Regions from separate parts of the Homo sapiens genome. Here region 2 is linked to region 1. A link means that fine-mapping ties the variant in region 1 to the expression of a gene that starts in the linked region. Tissue or cell type: fibroblasts. Region 1 holds a variant in brackets; the other region holds the start of a gene. All regions are shown on one strand. Distances are between the middles of the regions.

Region 1 (11,921 bases):
TATCAAGCAAATACACTAGGTAAACATTTCCCTCATCACTCTATCCTGTTTGAGGGACTCCAAAGCTGGTCAGCTTTACAATGAATTCTGCTCTACGATAAATACTGTTGTAGCAAGATTCCAGTGAGTCTTGTCTCCTCCATCAAATCTTCTTTCAGATATATTTGCAAAGAAAGTCATTGATTTATTTTTGTTTCATCTGCCCTTTCTGACCACTCATACCCATGGTAATGAGCAGGAAAATGGTCAACGGGATCTGAAACAAGAAGGTTAAGAAAAAGCAAAGGTCAACAGAAATGTACAGAATGGAAAATCAGGCACTGGGCAACAGACATGACCCAGTTTCAATCTGGCCTTAAATTCATAACATGACTCTTGAAAAGGTTCTTTTCTACAGAAGTTTGAACAGGTATATGCAAATAAAAATTCCAAAAAAGTAGAACACATTTTTACTTTTAAGTTTAATGTTTATTTTATTTATTCTGTAAGAGAATGCTGAAGAAGGTATTTGTCAATTCAATACCTTTACTACATGGAATCTGATTGAAACCTCGTTGAAGACTGACCTTTAAAGATTTGAGTATGTGAGTGCATGCACACACACACATACACGAACAATAATTTGGTAAAATAAAAAATAATGCTCTCCTATAAGCAACAAATATATAAATATACACATATATATCTGTCACTTCTAGAAAATATACAAATTCTTCTCTGCAACATTTTTCTTGTAGCTTCACCTATGTTCTCATTATGATATTATCTAATGAAGTTGATTAATGACAGCAATGGTAGAATAGCACAGTATTTAACACAGAAAGAGTAATCCAGGGAATTTCTTTAAGGATGCTTATTTATATGTAAAACTATCATGGAAACACTGTTATATTATTTTATTACAACTAAGATACACCTCAAAGCTTCTTCAAATATGACAGCTTAAAATTATTCTAGAATAATGTCGATATTTTGATATTTTATGCTGGAGTTCATCAAGGGTTTCGTCTTCCTTGATATTATTAAACAATTTCACCATTTTGCTACTCTGATCTGATTTTCATGGATTATGTCTCTCCTGAATTTGTATGTATGTGTCATAATAAACATTTGGTAAATGCCACATTCAGAGCCATACTATGCACTCTAAAAAAAAAATGCCAAACTTTAATGTACATCTGAATCACCTAGAGGTCTTAAAGTGCCGATTATGATTCAGTAGATATTTGTTGGAATTAAAATTCTGCATTTCTAGAGGTTCCCAGGCAATGTCGGTGCTGCTTCTACACAGACTACTCTTTAATTAAAGTGTAACGTTCTAATGCCTCCTAAAAGTAGACTTAAAACTCAGTGCCCATTTTCTGGAAATACGTTCATTGAAATCGAGCTCCTAAACAGAGCATCTCATTTCATTCAACCACGAATTAAACACGATGTCGCTTACAGAAGAACATGCACACTTAGTTTTCATCTTTTTATGAATATTAATATATTGGCACATCCTGGAAATGCTGACCTGTCACAGATTCTTATGAATGAGTCTGTCTTTGGAAGAGCATATGCATTCATAGTCAGGTAAAAATCTTCTAAACACTACATAGGAATTTGCTTGTATCATCAAAGAAGAAATAAGAAAAATGTCATGGGTTATGAAGAAGAAAAGAATAGAAAAGAAGAACCAGATATAAAATGTGAGAAATTATGAAAAAAGAAGAAGAACCAGATATAAAATGCGAGAAATTATGAAAAAAGTCTGTTTTCTGTGGTTTGTTTTTAGAAACAGAATTGATAGCATGAAAGTACAAATGATCTGATCATATGATGTCATATCTGACAGCTCGGTTCAAATTTTATCAGTCACTTCTCAATTTACTGCACATTATCATACATCAAGGATCAGCAGCCTCAGTAGCTATGAGTCAGAACTTGTGACATAAGAAAAACAAAGGCAGAAGACCAACTTCCACTTTATTTGCAATTTCTCATATATTATAAATATATTAGAAGTAGAAATATATAAATGCACACACAGACATCCCCCAATTTATTTTTCTTCTTACTTTCATTTGTTTCCTTATTTTCTCAAAATTTACTTCTGGAAAAGTGAGGTGGAGAGTTTATGTATCTGGGAAACTGGCATGAAGGACATTTCAAAATACTTTTTTTAGAGGCAACTATTTTCTCTCCTCTGCTACCTGCAATTACTCACACCTCTACCACTGCATGTACTAACCATGCTTTCTTCAATTTTTAATTATGTTGTTAACAGAGATCCTAATCTGGGTCTACTTGAAAACAAACAAAAAACACCTCTGGTAGCAACTTGGCGTCCTAGTTTACAGCTATAAAATAACCTAGAATAACTGAATAAGGAAGTACCGGGTTTTTTCTCCTACACCACATTTGTGTGAAGTGAGAACAGGAAGGAAGGTCCAGGATAAAGAAATCAGGCGATGATAGAAAAATAAGCAAATAAGCACTGCAGGATGTTTGCTGTTTGGCCAAACTTCTCTTTAATTTTCCCTACGATTGAAAAGCTATAAAAATGCTTAAAGAGTTGAATAGGTGTCCACTAGGCCTGAACTTTAGCGCAAATCTACTGAACAAACTATGATGATAAATTACAAAATCCTGAAGAAAAAGTTGATAAATGCAGAGTTTTTTAAATGGGCAATGAAAAATTACATTTATTTTATCATAAAGACATTTAACCTGACTTTTAACTTTTATGAAAATAAGAGAATAAAAAAATTATATTTAGGATATAAATTAATTTTGAATCTTTTAAGACATGTTTCTAAAAGTAAAAATAACCTAACACAGTCATACGAAAAAAATGCAGAACCACTAAAACTTAACGTTAGTATCTAAATATTGTGACTTTTCAAAAGTACATCTCTAAATACTTGAAATTTTTGGTTTTATAACATTAAAAACTTGAGTATCTCAGGAGCAAATGTACCTATATAACATTAGTATTTGATGCTAAGATACTATAAAGTATAGAAAACTAATTTATGACCCTAATAAAATATAGGCATGAAATTGTTTAGTTGCTGAAAAGGACTAGTGGAGTAATACACATTTTTAAACAAAACCAAACAAACAAAAAACAGGAAGACTTTGGTGGTCTGAAATGAACTCCTTCATCTACAACACTCTAACACCTTGTACTATGTACAAAGTTCTACTGAGGAGTAAAAGTCCCAGACAACATCTTTAAAATCCTTTTTTTTTTTTTTCTTTTTTGGCTAAGGTTCTGAGCAATATAGTTCCATAGGCTACAATTCTGGACCTGTTCTCTTCAAGACATTTTTTTTAAATGTGAGTTTTAGGACACTGTCATTTTGAAATATAAATCCTCTTGCAAGTTTCCTACCTGGTAAAATAACTTTTCGCAATGGTACCCTTTTATAATGTTCACGATCTATTATGGCATCAGTAAAACTGCTGGAAAAATACATTTTTACCAGAAATCCAGTCCCTTAAAAAAGTATCTAAATCATCCCCACTCCCCCAGCCCCCATCCTGCAAAGGAGCTGCTTCTTGGCTAGCATTTGGAACAACTGCATAATGGCTCATATCTTTTCAGTCATTCCAGGGAAACTATGATGGAAAGAAACTACCTCTGCACACTTCCATATTTGTGTGGTGAATCTCTGCCACAGACATTCTCTGCATGCTTTCTATCTTTGAGTAGGAAATCTATTGTATGTGTTTCTGTTGTGAATATCTCTAAAATTCAGTGAGGGCTTCTACAAAGTCATCCTTGCTTAGATAGGCAAATAACGACACCCAATCTGTTCCATCCAGGGTATCATTTCCTCAGAATAAGGTGGTCAGTACATAAATAGATTTCATTTTCAGCAATGTCTTCTCTCATGAATTAATGTCTCTACTCTGATCTGAGAAACTACAGAAGAGAATTCATTGTTAAATTCAGAAGAAAGGCCTTCCCTTGTTAATAATGTGGTTAACATGTATTTAATAATGCCCATATATCAGGCTGTGTTCTAAGCTTTTTTAGGCTTATTAACTAACTCAGTCTTCTGACCAATCTTAAGAGTCACACTTGTTATTTTCATTTTACAGGTGCAGAAATAGAGACCCAGAGATAACTGTCTTGTGCAATGTCACAGCGGTTATTTTGGGAAGTCAGAATCTAAACTTAGGATTTTTATCTTCAGGGTCCACACAGTTATTCACAACGATCCACTGCCCATGTAACTATATGACAGAGTAACATCGCTTCCTTCCGGTAATACCTACGCCTCTTACTTGTTCACATTGGCCCTGTCTGGTTCTTTTCGCTTTGTATCCTGTGTATGATCTCTCAAATCCTGCTTGGATATATTTGTTTTGCTTTGAGTTTTAGTTTGTTTGTTTGTTTTAACTCTTTCCACATCCTCTTTGGAAGGTTCTTTATGTTCCTATAGAGAGAGACAGGACTGGGTTCTGTGCAACATGTCATAATCATCAGTTATTTAAATGAAGACTCAGATGTCACATTTTAAAAATTTCCAAGTGAATGAAGATTGAAAACATAGTTAATATATGGAATATTAAAGTATGACATTTTTAAGCTGACATGATTGGCAAATAAAAAAGAAAATTAACAAAGAATAATGTAAAGTTTTAATTTGAAATAAAAAAATAAAATATATAGGATTTGTGTTAGTATTCGGCATCAGGTTTCCTTAATAGATGCAAATTTGTATATCAAATCTTGAATTTGTTTATTACCAAGGAAAATGAAGTTACTTCTTTTTTTTAGAACACATTTAGAGTTGAAGGGGATCAGAATATTCTACCCCCAAAGATGCCACTTTGACATAAGGATTACTTTGAGCTAAAGGCAATTAAGGAACAGCAGATATGGGAGGAACTATCTTCCTTCCCTTTTTCTGCCTAAAAGCAGAGCATACATTTTTCTTTGTGAAGGTGTTTCTGCTCTTTTCTCCTGTATTAGGAAGAGGGGGATGTCTTACTGAAGACAGTGCATCACTGGAGAGGGAGCCTATTTGAGTCTGAATAACAAATGTTAGTAAAATAACCCTTGTCTTCCATTAGCTTTCCCCATATATTTACCTTCCCACAATTTACCATCCCTGTAAGCCCAAATCCCTTTGCTTTGTCTTGTCACATCTCCACAATTTATCAGCCTTTGTTAAAATGATATGTAAGCTCTCAAACCTAGCCACTACTTTGGACTTTCACTTCTTTTCTGTGAAGCTCCTGTGTGCATACGAAAATAAACCTTTCTCCTGTTGATCTGTGTTTTGTCACTTTAATTTGCAGGCCCCGGTTACTAAGCTAAAGAGCGCAGAACAGGTTTTTCTTACCTACATAGTACTAGGTACCATATGTTTAAAAAATCAACAAAGGTTTCTCATTCTATAAAAGGGAAATAAAATGGATGGAGTCTGGGAATTATATGGTAAGTCAATGATTTAAAAATTCAGAAATATTTGTCTCAGGAAGATAAACTATAGAAGGAATATTATGGCAAATTAAAGTATATGAAAGTTTCACAATGAAAGAGGGATTCGGTCAGTGGTTCCTCTTGGATTTCAAAAGAAAGCAGTTTTTTCATCCATATAGATAACACTTGCTGAGAACTAGGTGTATATAACAAGGACATAGTCTCATGAATTTACTGTTTACAGATAAATTCTAGCAAAGGGTGTCTGATCCTTTGGGATGATCTAGAGGCAACTCCTCTATTGCTTTAGAAATAAACAAGATCATTGCCACAGTTATTTCTGACAACAGGATTCTGAGTACTTCTATTTTCTTCATGTATCCTTTGATTTTTTTCATTGTTTGCCCTTCTCTTGGTCATTTTTCCCATTTCTTTTAGATGATATACTTATGTAAAACAATTTAATCATTCACTCTAAAGCAGACCATCATTTTCAAACAACAAAAACATATATATCTTGAAAAATCTTCTAAATATAATAGGACTTCTTGCAAAGTTGAACAATAATGATAATTCACTTTGTGCCTTTATTTATAGAGAAGTATT[C/T]CTTTCTCACTTAAGAAACTTTCATCTTCTTTGACTTTGATGAATTATGTAAATTTCACAAATTTTATTTTATGTATACTTTATTTTGAATTATAATACACTAATAAATTCAAGCTAGAAAATAGGTGTATGTGGTATACCTCAAGAACATAAGTATCATAAAATGGCTCCATGAGTCCCATAATATGAGATTCTGGAGAATTAAAGTTCAAAAACATCTTCTTTTTATGAATTCCAAGTGCCTAAAAGGAGAAATCATAGTATACTACATGAAAAGAAAATACAGCAGCCTGTAAATAGCTTCCAGTGTCCAATCAAGAAGTTGTCACTGATTCTGGCTTATACTACAGTATAATTAAGTCATTTTAGACTTTGAAGTTAATTACAAAATAATTAGAGGAGGGAAGTTACAACATTTTGTTATTGTTGTTGAAGTTGCAGTGGTGATAACTTGGTTTTCTGCAAAGTTAGCCTTGAGATCAGTGGTAAGCTGCTCTATACAAATGAAGCTATATACTGTAATTAACAACCATATGGGATGTATTCATGATGTAGTTGTAGCAAAGATCTAAAAGAAACATGCATTGTAGAGATTGACATAGAAAGTTACAATTTTTGGAAAAATTTGGCTGTAGCTACAGCATATTATTTGGTTGGTAGATTAAGAGAAATTGCTATAGAACTGATGTCAGATGCTCAGGCTTGAGTCTGGCATTCTCTAACAGTATGACTGAGAAAGTGACTGAAACAACTATGGCTTTTTTTTTTCCTGTCTGTCAAATGTTGAAAAGAAGGCACTGTGGAGGGAGGCACCAGCCTAACCTCATGATCTAACCTCAAAGTCTAACCCAGCTGTGAGCATAAAATGTAACAACAGATGGGAAATACTTTTAAATATCTGAACACTCCCCCCAAACAAATATAAGATTGAGTTGTGTTTAAATCTTGTCTAGTAGTGCAACTGCCTAGCTGGGGAGTCCATTTCGAAATACTCATTAACTTTATGAAATGAAACAACAGTTTCAGGATTTTTCATTCAAATATTCTGTAAGAATCAATATCCTTCTGAAGTAATGAAATGTGGGGACAAGAGAATATTTTTAGGATTTTCCCCAAGGGGAAGACAAATAGTTTAGCTATATTTGATATAACAAGGCTGATAATCTAATATCCTGGTCACCTTGAACTAAATGGTGAAATCCATTAAGGTTGAGGAATTTGTTTGCTCATGAATATTTGTATTTAACCTTCATTTTTTTAATCAAAAGATTCCAGCATACTTGAGACCTAACAAAATTACTTGATTTAAAATAAAAGGTTACGATCTCATGGGAATAGATAGATAGTTGAAGAAACACTCAAGAAAAAAATTTAGCCTATGGGAAACTGTTTCAGTATCATTGTTTAAAAACTAGGACAGCTGGCTGGGCGCAGTGGCTCATGCCTGTAATCCCAGCACTTTGGGAGGCTGAGGTGGGCGGATCACGAGGTGAAGAGATCGAGACCATCCTGGCCAACATGGTGAAACCCCGTCTCTACTAAAAACACAAAAATTAGCTGGGCATGGTGCCACGTTCCTGTAGTCCCAGCTACTCAGGAGGCTGAGGCAGGAGAATTGGTTGAACCCGGGAGGCGGAGGTTGTAGTGAGCCAAGATTGTGCCACTGTACTGCAGCCTGGTGGCAGAGGGAGACCCCGTCTCAAAAAATAAAAAATAAATAAAAATAAAAATTAAAAATAAGACAGCTAGGATATATAAGTTTTAAAGTCATGAAGGTTGTAATTATATTCAAGTTAAGTTTTAAATCAATTTTTAAATCTCTAAGGCTATTTTGCACATTAAAGGTTGTAATGTAAAAATGGACTGACCACACCAATGATTTGCTTGAATCCAAATTATTAGATACATATAAATAGAAGAATTTCAATTGTCACTTTTATCTCAAAGAAAATATGAGTTTACTTTATTAGGACTATATAAAAAATAATATATAATTATATATGAGTAATACATGAATAATATAATAAAGTAAACATGAATTTACTTTATTATGACTATATATAAGATATACAATATACAATACAATATATAATATAATATATAATAATATATAATACCATAATATACAATTATTTTTATATATATATTAGAGTAGAGGAAATATATATATTTCCAGGAAACCTGGACCCAGTTGATAAAGTTTTCCCTAACTACTTCTGATATTCCACTTATTTCCAACAGTTTCCAACCGTTGGTGATATAAGAATAAGAAATCTGAGAGTCAAATATCAATTGCCAAGTCTAAATTAAAATCTGTTACATTATACGTAGCCAAAATAATAATACTGCAGTTATGTATGACCATTCTACCTGTACATAGAATGTAGAAGTAATGCAAGTAAAATACTGGCTGTATTCATAATTATGTCCTCCTTCTATCTGTATAATTTGCAGTGTGCCAGAAAAACCCTCCCTCTCTCCCAATTCCTACTCATGCTTCTTCTAAAATATCACATCCTGGAACTCATTAACATCATAATATGAATACATCTTTTAATTCACTTTTCTTCTTCATACTAATACACAAAACTGGAGAACTAGGTATGTCAAAAGATTGTAAGGGGTGAGAGAGAGAATATGTTAAGGCACTCTTGTTTAAATATAATTAAGGCAAACTTTGCCATGTTGAAAACTTTGAAAAGAGAAACAACTAATAAACACAACAGAGCACTCCTTAATATATTTAAGCATTCAGGCAGATCTTAACACTAAGTATTTTACTCCATGTGTACACAGGAATAAATTAGAATTTTAATTATTTTACAAGGCTAACTCCGAAAGCTACCTTGGAAACGATTTAGGCTATTGGATTTCTGCCACCTCCAAATACTATCTAATACATTAATAATGGTTGTGGTTACTCACATGTCCAAAGGAGGGATATTGTGTGATAAATAATTTCTGCTTGCTGACACACTCGTATTTTTTGTAGATGAATTCTCCAGAGGTTTCATATTAATTAAGCCTGCTTTCGAAGATGAATTGGCTTATTTATAGTGCTGTGGCACTTAAAGACTGTAAGTTCTCCAAGGGCAGGATGATGTCTTAATAATTTTGGATTACTAGTGGCTAGTATAGGGATGAAAAATATTAAGTAATCATTAAATATTCACAAATTAATTCAGTAAGGCCTTATTTACTATGTAATTGATTTACAACTTCGGCTTGTAGATAGATCCCAGGAAAGCAGAGGATGAGAGAAATGACTCCACTTAAAAAAATGCCCATATGCTAATTGATGAAATCATTTATGTTCAGAAATAACTCATACTAAGTGATAGTTTGAAAATGGGAATTCCAACCAAGGAACAAACCTATAATAAGTTTAAGTCAGTAAATAAGCTAACTGTAACTTGTCTGCAGAAACAACACATTACCAGATGGAAGATAGCAAGAAATCTACAATGTGGGTGCCCAAGGAGCAATAATCTGTCCAGGTTGTAATCACCAAAGGATCAAGAACACTCTGGAACTCAAGGGATTGAGTTCTTACAATGGAGGTGGATGTCTTAAACCTGTGTAAGGGCTAGATTTGGTAGCTGCTAGTCACATATGGCTAAATTAAAATTCATATTAATTGCATTAGATTTTAATTAATTCAAATGAGTGTAAATTAAAATTAAGTAAGTGAAATTCAAATGAGTGAAATAAAATTAAAGACTTAGTTCTTCAGTCTCACTAGCCACATTTCTAGTGATCAATAGTTGAATGTGCCTAATGGCTAACATATTTGAAAGATAGGACATTTCCATCCTCACAGAAAGTTTTACTGGACAGTGTTACATTAGATCAAAGGTTTAAACTTACTTGTATTAGTATCACAATTTTGAATAATACATTTATTATTGCTTTGTTTGAGAAGAATAAATCCCTCCTCTCTCTCTCTATCTCTCTCTCTCCCCCTCTCTCTCTTCCCCTCCCCTCAATAATTTAGGTAAAGTCATTTCTATTATACTGATACAGTATAACAGCACTTCTCAGAGTCTATAAAAGCTCCAATGGTTATCACATATTCTTTGATCTCCTGCTCCCTGTAACCATTTCTTCATATATTCAGAGGCAAATATTTGTAAGTCTCAGCAAATCTTTTGTTGCAACTCGGATATCATACCAGGCCTCTAGGGCCTCGTCTTTCTCAGAGTAAATAGCACATTTTAAGTCCTGTTCAACACACACATACTTCTGGCATCCATTGCTGTAACAGTATGTATACTCACTTGTTATAATATGCAAGAAAACTATATTACACATATGGGCCAAAGTTGATACTGTACCTGTGAAATTTTCACAATGAAGCTGTGGACTGAAATCTATGAATTGAAAAATATTGCAATAGACCTCTTCTCTTTATAAGAGACTGTTAAAATTATTCAACATATACCTGTTACTATAATTTTGTCCTCACTAACTAAAATTTTAATTGTCTTTTAGTTACCTAGTTATAAAGTAAGCTTTTGAAATGGACAAAATATTCTAATCAGATGAAGCAAATAATATAGTTTGTATTTGTTTTCTGAGACTTAGTAACACATTCTGCTTGGTAGGCCAATCTCCATTAAGATTGCTTTAGGGTTGATTCCTAATTAACTCTTGTAAATTATCTGAATGTTCTAACTATGTCAAAGTGGTATAGTCTCAAGAAGCCTTTTCTGGACATCTTATCAGCTTCAGAATATACTGATACAATTTATTGACCATTCTTTATGCACCAACCACTGTCATTAGTTAAAAGAGAATAGTAATTTCCAGACTTCTAGAACATTTCCCTGTCCGGGAAAGACTGCCTCGTAACCCAGCTGTTGAGAAGTGTGACAACCCTGTTAGGGATAGAAATTCCTAATCATTTGTCATTAGACAAACGAGAGGAGAAAACTCCCTTAGTCTGCAGAAAAGCCTCAAAATGTTAACATTCTTTCCATTGGAAAGACAGACATAACAGCTTTGTTAATGGATTTCTTTGTGATTTAATACAACATATTAAAAGCAACACTTGTGACTCTTGAATAAAGAAGTGAATATTGTTTCGTGAAAATGGTCATTCATCATTAGTTATAAGAAGTCTGTTTGTAATTTGAAGTTTTAATTTAATTAGTGTCACATACTTGAAGGCTGCCTTGTGTCAACTGTTATAATGACATGCTATCTGTTCCTTCTACAGAGTAGGTTGCTAACAAGCATTTCAACTGGAACAAAATGATAATGAGAAAAACAACAGAAGTGTTAATTACCTATGCAATTAGAGTGGCTTATACGTGCACTAGTGTAACATTCTACTGTATTTACATCTTTAATGACTGTTAATCTTCACATGAAAGTGTCTACTAGCATTATTTATCACTCCACTGTTACATTACGGGAAGAGTTAATGACAGGCTGTATAGGATGTGGGCACCTAGCTTCAATCTAGCCAGACAATTTTTATAAAGTAGTCTACTCTTTCGGGCTCTTTGTATTAGTATGTTATAATATAGATATGTTATACACTATACAAATTGCACTTTTGGACGGCTATATACAACAGAAAAAAAAAATTTACTTCTCAAAATATCCTTTAAAGTCTAAATATTTCTTGTGTTTTTTATGTTATTAAAAAGTGCCCTTGGGAAAAAAATATTATAAATTTTTAAGTATAGTATGCTTTAAAAATTGAAACATAGTTCTAATTGCCTTTGGAATATATTATGTGTAAATGATGATTCTATGTTCCTTGAGATCAATTCCTCCTTCCTTTTCCTCTTTTGCCAATTCTAATGACATGGACTATACAAAGGTGATGCTTATTAAATGCTAGCTAACTAAAGTGACTTCTACAGAAGGTGTTTGATTCATCTCA
Region 2 (11,921 bases), 630 kb after region 1:
ACTTTTTTTTTTTACAGGATGTATGGCTATTATTTAATAGTTTTGATTTCCATTTAGTTACTAGTCAGTTTCATCAATTGGTTTAGTCAGGGAGCTCAGTCAAAATATGTGGGCTTGTATAGAGATAGCCTAAATAGAAAGGATGGAGAGAAAGAGAGATGGAGAGAGTGAGACTGACTCTACATTTTAATATCACTCAATTTAGAACAGAGCAATACATAATACATACTTTCTAACTTGGCCTTGTAATTATGCCAGGGGAAAAAGGGAGGCCATCTGATCATTTATGAAGAGGAAAATATAGATTTAAAATTGTGAGGGCAGATTATAGAAGACAAACAGAAAAAAAACAGCATATACATTTGGAAGATGTAAGCTTACTTGTTGTGCTGAATGGCAGAATCTCCTGAATCCTTCATTCTCCTTTCTCTAAAATAGAGGGTTCATATGTACTTGGTGAGATTGACATGTTATTCAAATGAGAGAGGACTGAAGAGCCAGAACAGAGATTCAATACTATTGCAAGTATAATACTTTTCAAAATTGAGTGAGTGAGGTAAAGACACTCATTCTGTGCCAGTGGAACTCACATATGGAAATTAGTCCAAAAACCAACTTTTAAAAACTCAAATTATTTTTAGAGATATTTTCATTTTTTGTCTTATTTACTGTTTAAATAATATTTTATCCCAAAAAACTAATAAGTTTTAAAAATCTCCATCCAAAATAAAATAACTGGAGAATGTTCCCAAGGCCTATAGACTATACAATTTGTGATTGCTCTGTTGCAATTTCATTTCTATGTCTCTAGACAATGGTTTGTGACACAGGTTAAATTTGGGAATAGCTATCCATGTGAAAATGTATAGCAACTCCACAGAAGAAAATAAAAAGCATCCCTTGACATTTTTCTGTTTGATTAGCTAATTTTCCCTACTCTCCCCCCTCCTCTGCCAAAACCAAAAGAAAAACCTTCTTATTTGACCTTTCTATGCATCAAGATAGTTTTGGTCATTATTCTTGGATTATATGGGGGAAGCCAGGTTTCTTGAAGAAATTTAAGAAAAGTTTTAAAACTATCTAAGGTAGACATAGATATTTTCTCATAGGAGTTTGGCTGAGCATATATTCTGATTAATTCATAATGGAACTCAGTCTTTGGCTTTATTTTCTTTAGCATTCTGCTACTAAATGTATTGCTTCAAATTATAAGCATTGGGTATACCATAATTATATTCATTTCAAAAGCAGATAATTTTGACACGTGTTTCTGCCACACAGTCAGATTCTGTTAAAACAAAATACTTGTTATATCGAAATGTATTAGAATATTATATGCTATGAGTCAAAAAATAACTTAAAATTTTTTTCATTTCACTTTTTTTTTTGTCCAGATAAATAGACATGTTTATCTGGAGTTTTCAAAAGCAAAAGTTTCATTCATAAAAACCATCACCAATTTTCAAGCCAGAGTGGTATTTTTAATGGCGTTTGTGCCAAGGAAAGCCATTTTAAAGCAGATATACAGACACACATAAACACACACAGAGAGAGATTAAAAACGGGGTTGGGGGCAATTGTATAGTTGGGTTCCACTTACTACTAACTTAGTTTGACGAATGATATCATGTTGGCACAGGCATGTTTAACTTTTAGGATTAATTCTACTTTCTTTGAATGCATCTATCTAGAATGAAGACAAGTGTTTCCTTTGTACAAGAATTGTTTTGACAGACAGCCACAGAAGATAGAGAAATCTATCAGTATGTTTGATTGGTACTTTTTACTACACAGAATTCCTATAACCAGGAAAATGCTGAAGGAAAGGGAGGGAGAGTTGCACATTTCACATTAAGATACAAAAATTAATGGCAGAAACATAAAAAACTGGATCCATATATAGAATGGAGAAAAGACATAAAGTTCCCTCAACATCATAATCCTTGTAGAAGACCAAGTCCTGTTCAGTTCAGGTGACTTTAAATGGAGCTGATTTTTATGGTATCCCCTGGGCTGAGAAAAGAAATTGACAAGGTAACTGGCAAGAAACTAATGTCCTGGATCCAATAGATTTGCAAACTAAGTATTTCTGCATACCTCCACCTTGAAAAACAAGCAGCATTTAGAAAGTGTCATCTAAGTCCTAAGAATACATTAACCATATCACTCATCTAGCACCCTTTCTAAGAAAATTTCCTTTACCTTCACTTACATTTTTAAAAAATCACTTCCATATTTGTAATTCTAGCACAGTTAATATTTAATTTTTCTGCAATATTCTCATGTCTCTCTCCATTCTTAGAGGTCTAATTATATTCAGATTCACACTGGTGGCACTTTCCTTAAATTATTTTTATACTGTAAATATTTTCATATAATGTTTTTAATAATGAGATAAAAACATTTTAAGAAATTATTTTGTCTAAAGATATTTTAACCTATTCAAGAAATACTGATTCAGATTCTGATGTATGGCAGAATCCATCCATCCATCCATCCATCCATCCATCCATCCATTCATCTTTTTCCTAAATTTATCTTCAGCTTTCTCTTAACTCCATTTTTCCTCCTGAATTCTGTTTTCTGCAATTCACATTCTTTCTTATTGTTTTAGCACATTTAAATTCTTTCTTTACCTTTTCCATTTTCTCTTTTCTCTCTCACTCAGTTTAAATTTGAGCTTGAGAAGAGAGAAAGAGAACAAATTCAAAGATTAGCAACCTCTTCAAAACAAAACTTTAATGTTATTTGTGGCATATGAAGAGACATAAATCGCAGTTCATTCTTCTTTGAGGGGAGATTAAAATTTTGATATACATTTAATTGCCATTGTTTGATGGTTTTCTATACAGATACATTAAAATGACTATAACAGCATGAACTTTAATTATTTGGAAATGTGTCTCCACATTGTATCATACTCGAGAATTTAACACAGACTAGCATTAGGCCTCTCAATCCCTTTTCAGAAAATTTGACACTTTAAGATATACTTCCTTTTAAGTTTTAATCCTTATCAAGCAATACTTTGATATGATATGACATTGTTATATGACAAATTAGTTGATTCTAAGTGAATCTGATTTATCTTCCAATTTTGGCTGTTAAGAGTTACAAAGATGTTTCCTTTTTAAGATGTGATAGAATGTAATAAAAACTTACATGTACATTAGTTTAGCTCTATATAGAATCAATATAAACTAATAAAATAAACAATAAGGAATTAAAAGACAAGTGCACGTATATGGTTTGAACATAAACATACGAGTTAGTTTCAAGCCTTGTTCTATTTAATACAATGTTTGAACTTATGAATGTATAAAGGAAAAACACAGCTAGAAGGTAATACAAACACTTCTGATATAGTTCATACAGTTTGAGAAGCTACCTATTACACAATAAGTACACGTAGAACCTAAATGTGAATTCTCATTTTTTGTCAAGCAGTTAGCTCTTGCACTACAAAACGCATCTGTATAATTCACATGCCTGTTCTGTTATTCAAGGACGATTGACATAAGCCTGTGCAGAAAGTTACATCTCATTAACCTCTTTCTTGAGTTTATATTCCCATATCTTCTGTTTCAGCATATTAGTGAGGGAAGCTTGTCATAATGCAGTAACACTTTCTTTCTTAACTTTCAACAAGATTTCTCTCTTTAAAATTCCTTTTTCCAAATGGGGCCCATCCTTTTCACTTTTGGTAACTGTGAGAATTTTAGCTCTTTGCTAACAGTTTTGAAAGTGTGTTAAATATATAATAGTGGCAAAGTGCTGGTCTACAATTATTTTTACTTGTGCTATCTGATATAGTACTTCATGTGGACGTGGTGATACAACACGACACTATTTCATTTTTTAGAAAAAAACTAGCAATCGTTTACCATGTGCTCTGCTTCTATCTTAGATGTTCCTCTCCCTCATGAAACTAAATTGGCACCAAATATAATCCTCTTAGTTATTTAATATTCTATCTCAGAAGAAAGTTGTGGGGTCTGTATTTTTTATGTTCTATACAAAATTCTCTTCAGATATTTACTCCAATCATGGTAGCAGTAGTTCTATCCTCATAAATGTATACAAAAGCATTGAGAACTCAGCTTTAGATGAAGTCAAATTTCTGGAGATTGGAGACTCAATCAGGAAGAGCCCAATAGCAGTAGTCTGCCAGTACCATTATATTTTGCTAGCATACTGGGCTGAAAATCTCCATTCTGTTCATCTGCTCTGGTCCAACTTCAAACATTTTTCCTAAGAAAGGTTGAGAGCTGATTGTTCCAGATCAAAGACATCATCATTTCAAGGCGAGCTATGTGCTTCCATTTCATCAGTATAGTTTCCAACCATTCCACACCAACTTCAAGGCAAGTTGAGCAAGTTCAGAAGCTATGGTTAGGTGGCAATGATATGCTTAAAAGATTATCACCAATAAGTGTCAGATTTCCTAAAGGAACTCAGATTAGTCCCACCACTGGTAGAGGAAATAACACGTGTAGGTATGTTACAAAGGCTAGAATCTGGCTGCCAACAGCAGGTTGAATAGAAACACTGCAGTTCATTCCCCTGTTCTTTCCTATAATGAAGCAATATTTTTTGTCAATTCATAATCTGCTTCATGTAAATACAATAACTAAATCTCCCAATGCAACATTCTGCCTATTTGCTTGGCATTGGGATCTGGGTTTCTTTCTCTCTTTCTCTCTCTCTCTCTCTCTCTCTCTCTCTCTCTCTCTCTCTCTCTCTTATTTAAACTAAAAAGCTGAACTATACCAGTCAATATAAGCTCATTTTCTGATTTTAAAAAAATCTATGATACTTCTGATTTTACTTTAACCAGTTAACCATTCCAAGGCCAGGGCCAGTGCCCCAAATATTCATCTAGTATTTTCCTCCCTTTTTCACCAGTGCATCTGTTGTCAAAGATTATTAAACTCGCACAGGGATTCTTGATTTTCCAGATGAAAAGTTTATAGAATCCCGGCTTTTTCTAATTCCTACCTCCTTTCTCCTCTGCTCCCCATATCCATTCCCTTCTAAACTTCTACCATTCACCAGCTGCTTGGAGAAAAAGGAAAAGCAAAGCGCCAGACTGGAGAGAGGCACTCCAGGGGTGGGTTAGCCCCTCAGAGCACCTGGGCTGTGTCACAGACCCTCATAATCGAAAAGTCAATTTCAAGCAGGTGCGTGCGCCCGGAATCGTCCTAAAAGCCTCTCTGCTGATGACAGGACTCTGACCCCAGTCTGCCCCCAGGAAGGGGCTATAGAAACGAAAGGGGCCTGAATCGGCGCTTTCGCCGCTCCACGGACCTCGAATGCAGCAGGTAAGGAAGTTAACCTGGGAGCTAAGTTGAGGGCGGACACGCTTAACGCGGAGAACCTGGAGCTCGCAAAAGCTCGCAGTTGAGGGCCATCGCGGAGGGAAGTCTTTCGGAAATGCGAATTCTCATTCCAACATCTGCAGCGCTTAGAATTCGCGGACAGAAGCGCACAGCCAAGTGCACACACTCCCGGAGGGGACAAAATGGGGACCGGGAAACGGCCAAAGGGAAAAGCTGTGGGGGTGCCGAGGACTCAGGCACTTGGTTCAGAAATCCCGCACCGCACCTCTCACCCCCGCACAGGGCCAGCGCACGGTGGTCACCCGGTCCCGGGGAGCGGAGCTGCAAGGACTTAAGTTTCACACTCACTTATCTGCAAGCATCGCCCAGCAGGAAAGCCAAGGAAGTCAGGGGAGGGGAGCGGGGAGGTGTTCTCCTTACCTCGGTCGGCTCCCACGGTCAGCACCCTGGCAATCGGCAATAATCCCGAGAGAGTGAGTAAGGCGAGGAGAAACTCGGACATTGTGGTCGCCCGGTAAGGAAGCCTGCGCTGGAGACTGCTCGGCGGCACCTTCGGCCCGGCGGCGGCGGCGGCGGCAGGGGCCGCTTGGAGCCTGGAATCGAGCGGCGTCATTTACAAATGTCACTGGAAATTCTTCAGCTCAATGAGTCCAGCCAGTCAGCCTTCTCCTGCCTGGAGCAGGATGTGGAAGGTGGAGGGATGCGCGCGTGCGGGAGAGAGGAGGCAGAGCGTGTGTGAGCGCGAGCGAGACGCCCGTGTGTCTTGACTTTTCAATGCAGGGTACGTCTGATCTTACATCACGCAAGAGGGGCAGTGAGAGATGCCAGCGGATGGGAATTCACTGATTAATCACCGAATCCACCACACACCCCTTCGTCGTTCACATAAATCACATCTATTACTTAATAAGAGGCATTTAACACAACAGGAAAATACCACCGCGAACGGAGAGCGCCACAAATCACAATTATTTTAATCCCCTTGAAGGGAAAGTAACTCGAAGCTGGTTCTGTGGGGATTTGGGTCTTTGGAGAAGGGAGAGACTTCTGCATTGGCCTGAGCCAGCCAGGCGCCTACAATGCTCCGCAGTTCACAGCCAGCTGAGAACCCTCAGCCGAGCACAGGGCTGCTTCTGCAGGCAAAACAAAGCTTCTCCCTTCGTTCCTCGGAAGCTTCCTTCCCGGGAAGGAAGGACAAGCCAAGGAACAGAGCTTCTCTTAGGGAAATGGTTTCCTCGGCTCTACACAGAATCCCAGTACTTCCTGAATTGCACTTTTAACTTTTATGCTGAGCAGCACCTGGGGACAAAGAGGCAAAATTTAGTGACTCAGCAGAAACAGAAAGCAAAACAACCCCCAAAGTCATTAACCGTTGCGTAAGAAGGGAAGGTTAATGGAAAAGGCTATTGAGGTCCCCAGGCAGGGAACAATAAAGCAACGAATTGGCAGCGTTTTTCTCTGGGGTTCTGTCTTTAAAAGGGTACTTCGAGCCATTTTAAACAGGCTTTGAGGGTTTTGTTGTTTTTGTTTTGTGTTTTGTTTTGTTTTCCTTTTCCATATACTACAGGGGCGGTGTAAGAACTTTCCCGAGCCATCGGAGGCATCAACGGGAATCACTGGAATAATAATATTAGTAAAGTTGTTTTTATGACCACTTAAGTTTACAACATGATCATCCCAGTCCCTAAAATTTTAGTTTGCCATTACAAAGTGGCTACGGAATTAAAACTCAGAAATCTTAATAGTTGTAGACTTACTTTCTTCCTTGTAACATCAGGAATTCTCTTCTAAGAACAAGAGTTGAAAAGGTTTTATATTTAATATTTTGAAACTGGACATGAGTGGAGAGGAAAACTATGAGAAGGGAACAGAACTAAGGAAGAGAACGATTGAAAAGTGAAGGAAGATGCTTTAAAAGCTTTATTTACTTTGCTGTTTGAGACTTATAAGTGAATGCCAGCATTACTATCTACCTATTTATGAGAGTAAAATTATCCAGAAATATCTTTAGATGCTCCTTTGAAGCCATTAAAAACTGGACTAGATGAAAGAACACAGAGATGACTTTGCAGAACATTGTCAATAATCTGTGGATTTCACCTTTTTATTCTTACTCTGTGATTATAAATGTATTTTATGTCACTTTTTCCATGTTTTAAATTATAAAGTTTACTTTCCCTTGAAAATACAACCATTTTGTGTTTGAAATATGACTCCTACATTCAAAAGTGTATGCTTAATTTTTTTTTTTTTTTTTGAGACGGAGTCTCTCTCTGTTGCCCAGGCTGGATTGCAGTGGCGCGATCTCGGCCCACTGCAAGCTCCACCTCCCGGGTTCACGCCATTCTCCTGCCTCAGCCTCCGGAGTAGCTAGGACTACAGGCGCCCACGACCATGCCCGGCTAATTTTTTTGTACTTTTAGTAGAGAAGTGTATGCTTCTTTTCTTCTAAAGTTGTTACATGTCTAATTTTTCCTAGATGTTTTTATTATTTCATAATATAGTGTACAATATAGAATAAAAAGATTTTTTTACATATTTTACTTCATACTGAAAATTCACAAACTTTGAAATGAGTGGCAGAGTTTAAAGAATATGTGTGTGTGCGCGCGTGTGTGTGTGTGTGTGAGAGAGAGAGAGAGAGAGACAGAGAGAGATTTGAATGATGTGCCAAGTAATAAATGTTTCTTTCTCGAGGGTCCACAGACCTCTGTATTGTATGACAAACTTATTCACTGGGACAACGTAGCAGGTGTCTTTCTTACATGATCCCATTCAGTCAACTAGAAGGTCAGCTATTAGGAGATCTGTATCCACTTAACTCTTGGCAAGAAAATGAGGAGTGCTTACAAACCATACTAAGGACATCCAGATTCTTCCTCTTCTGAAAGATTACCACCAATCGCCCTCCACTTCACTGCAAAGTAAAGGAAAGCAGCCAGGAACAGTATGACCCACCAAAGACTTTTACCACATACTAAAGTGCCCCAATGCTATGATTAAAAATCACTAACTCATTCACTTCTGTAGTACGTGCAGCAGCCCTAGATTCCATGGTCAGCTTGGAAAAGGGAAAAGCTAGGAAAGATCATAAGAGTAGCAAATACTCAGGAGATTTTGTATTCTAAATATACAACATTCCAAATACGTAGAGCCTCCTAATAGCCTGTTAAATGAATTAGCCAGAGTAAAAACCATATGATCTTTTTAGATCATCTGGTTGACTTTTTTATTTCATTGAGTGGAAAAAAATCAAAAATGCATTGTCTGCACATTGTGACCAGAATAATAAAGCAAAATAGAATTCTTAAGTAATCACCAATTAAGTCAGTAATCATGAATGACATAGGACTCAAAACAGTTACTATAAAATAGTGATAGTAAATATGGAAGATTAGTTACTAAAGTATAGGCTGGAGCACCAATAAAAGGTAACATGATAAGCCTAATTTCCACTGTGAATTAATCTTAATGAAGTATTATCTATAAAATAAAATTTGCAGCTTTAGGCTGGACACAGTGGCTCACACCTGTAATCCTAGCACTTTGGGAAGATGAGGTGGGAGGATCACGAGGTCAGGAGATTGAGACCAATCCTGGCCAACATGGCGAAGCCCCGTCTCTACTAAAAATACAAATATTAGCCGGGTGTAGTGGCATGCACTGGTAGTCCCAGCTACTCAGGAGGCTGAGGCAGGAGAATCGCTTGAACCTGGGAGGCGGAGGTTGCAGTGAGCCGAGATCGCGCCACTGCACTCCAGCTTAGGGGACAAAGTGAGACTCCATCTCAAAAAAAAAAAAAAAAAAAAAAATTGAAGCTTTATTTTAAGACCATGATTAATAAAGATCTAAATGGTATAAAACCTCTCTCAAAAATTTGGTGAAAGTATAGGTGCTTAGGTATGCACCAGTACTTAAGTGGACAACAACACATGAACTTAAATGCTTGTTAAGAGTTTTTAAGACTAAAATTTATACTAAGGACACTGATTCATACCAAGAAGCCAAAATATGAAATAAACAGATTAAATATTAAGCAGAAAATATATATTTGCTCCAAAACTGAAATAAAGCCGGTGTCAAAATGAAATGGGATAAAATTGTCTGTCCCACATCAAATCTCTTATATAAAGTGGTTCTTCTTCCAGATATTCTTTGAAAATGACCAGTTTATAAAAGAAGATTGGTTTCTATGAGCATCAGTGAGGTTGATAAAAGTGTAGACCAAATTTGAGCTTTAAAATTAAATAATTTGCTCCTAGGTTTTAAATGACCATTGAATGTTAATGGATCATAAATAAATGAAAAGCTTAAGTATAATTTTCTATGAAATACTTTTGTTTCCCCATAATATATGCTTTAATGAAAAAATAAATTAATAAAGTGCACTATTAGTGAAGAGGGAAAAGCTTGAGTGAGCGTTCGAATTTTGTTTGTTACTAGGCTCCATTATAATTTATTCATTCTAATCAGAGTTATTAACACTGACAAGTTAAATTAATTCATCAAACTATAGAATATTATGAAATCTCTCATTAAGATAAATTAAACAAAGTAGAACCAATCATTCTTCCTTTTTGTTTTAAAACAACACATGAATGCTAATTATCAGTCAGTGGTAATCTTACACTTCCCAATTAGAGCCACAGTTTCCATACATGTGATCAAACATCACATTTCATTTCTGCTAACTTAATTATTTTTGTGAGATTGGATTTCTTACTGTAGATAGTAACAATTTGTGCTACACATCTGAACATCGTTAAGTTAGGGAGAGGACGTGTGTCTAAACAAGCTGGAGCTGACAGTCTGTCTCATGGAAGAGATGTGTGTGAAGGAGAGTTGGCCTGAAAGTTAGGTTGCTAAGGATTTCTGCAGCTATCATTGCAAGGCCTGCTAAGTTTCTTACCCTGCCTTTTTCCAGACAGAAAAGTTGCCAGGCAGCAGCAGACACAAGATGAAAAAGAAAGGGAAGAGACTGAGAGAGACAGGGGGCGGAGGAGGTAGAGAGAGAGAGAGAAAGGATTATTAAGGAAACATCATCAGTTCTTTAACTTGAAACAGAGTTACTCTGGACAAAGCCTCTAAGAAAAATAAAAAACTTTAGATGCAAGTTATTTCTCAAACTGCAACAGATCAAGGCACATTTTTAACCGCTTTTCTTCAAAAGTGGGTTCTGTTTTTCAGCATACTGTCTCAATTAGGATACAAAGATTTGGTTGAGATAAATAAGATTTTGGTGTAACTTTAATTTTTACTATTAAGCAATTATTAGGAGGTATGCACAATTGAAAAGAAAATTAAGAGTGATGCAATTATCTAATTACATCTGGAAAGCAAAAATATTTCCAAGACAATTACATTGGTCTTCTCTTTTTATATTTTCAGCTTCTCTTTACTGTTACTATCTGTAAATGTTTTAAGACATAAATATTATGGCAAAAAGCATGACTGAGGGCAATTATAAGTTTCAGAAGACAATATAAGCTTTAAATACTGATTTGATTATTTGGATTTTTTCTGACTCTTGTTTGATAAACTTTTGACAGTAAAAATAAAAGGAGTCTACAGATTTAGACAAAGCCAGCAGAAGACTTGAAAGACTAAAGGTTATATCATTTTTTTCATTTTTTAAGGGATTGACATCCATAATAATAATATAGTCTGAAGATATAAATCCTATTTTGCTCTTTGGATATGTCAAGAGAAGGTACAATTGGTAATATTGCCATCCGTGTGTAGGTAATACAAAAATGTCAACAATTCATCAAATCCTTGTCACTCCACTCACATGGAATTAGCCCTCGGGTTTTAAGTCAGTTGCTGATTATAAGGTATGTTGCTTTGGTACTTTTAGACCCTGACATATGTGTGTTCAATACGAGCTCCACATTGCCTTCTCCAGACCCAGAATAGAATTAGTGTATCAGGTGGAGGGTTGATTGTCAGTGGACATGGTCAGGATGCACTTTGTCTGAATATGCCCTTGTGACATGTTTCTACCTATGAATATTGATCTCTGACCTTCTTTCTGGTCATCATCTTGCTGCTCCTTAATTATAATTAGAGACTTTAAGATTGTTGGAGCTGGGAGGAGCATTCAAATAATCTACTCCAATTTACCGTATTTTGCAAATGAAAAATTTTTAGAGAAAGAAAACGTGACTAGTCTGAAGTCACACATTTTATTAATATCAGAAATACACCTTGAATAAAGCTTCTTGAATGCTTCCCGTATTATGTAGTCAGCTTTGTTGGTATTCTTTTAGTTTTTGTTGTTGTTGTTGCTGTTGTTGTTTGTTTTACTTCCCAGAAGTGGTAGCTCAGAGAATATGAATTTATTCATTCACTAAATATCTATATATTATGTGACAGACACTGTATTTAGCACCATGCATATAGCAATAAGGATAATAAACATAATTCTTGCAGGAACATAGCATATAATCTAAATAAAATATTAATATCATTCTTCTGCTAAAGGACTGACTTTCCAGTATCAGCATGTAAACCATCCTCTCAGAAACCACAAGCATGACACATAAAGGCCACTAATGGGATCACCCAGTAAAATCAATGCTG

Direction of the effects. Positions count from the first base shown, and alleles are read on the strand shown. Sizes are in standard deviations (SD) of each study's normalised expression.
For the expression in fibroblasts of the gene that starts at base 6,128 in region 2, T is the low allele of the variant in region 1 and C is the other (moderate effect, 0.55 SD a copy in GTEx).

What was found.
Region 2: LRP1B starts here. The variant in region 1 is fine-mapped to the expression of LRP1B in fibroblasts (GTEx, PIP above 0.99).

What each region holds. Positions count from the first base shown.
Region 1 is chr2:141,495,129-141,507,049 of GRCh38, forward strand. All of the region lies in intron 2 of LRP1B (LDL receptor related protein 1B), which reads right to left. Among named protein-coding and RNA genes, the nearest start is that of LRP1B, 630 kb to the right of the region's middle. The variant C/T (reference allele first, on the strand shown) is at 6,029.
Region 2 is chr2:142,124,889-142,136,809 of GRCh38, forward strand. It overlaps LRP1B (LDL receptor related protein 1B), which reads right to left and starts at 6,128. Exons shown (of 91, transcript NM_018557.3): 1 at 5,760-6,128. The coding sequence starts at 5,841. RefSeq lists an enhancer at 5,996-7,195.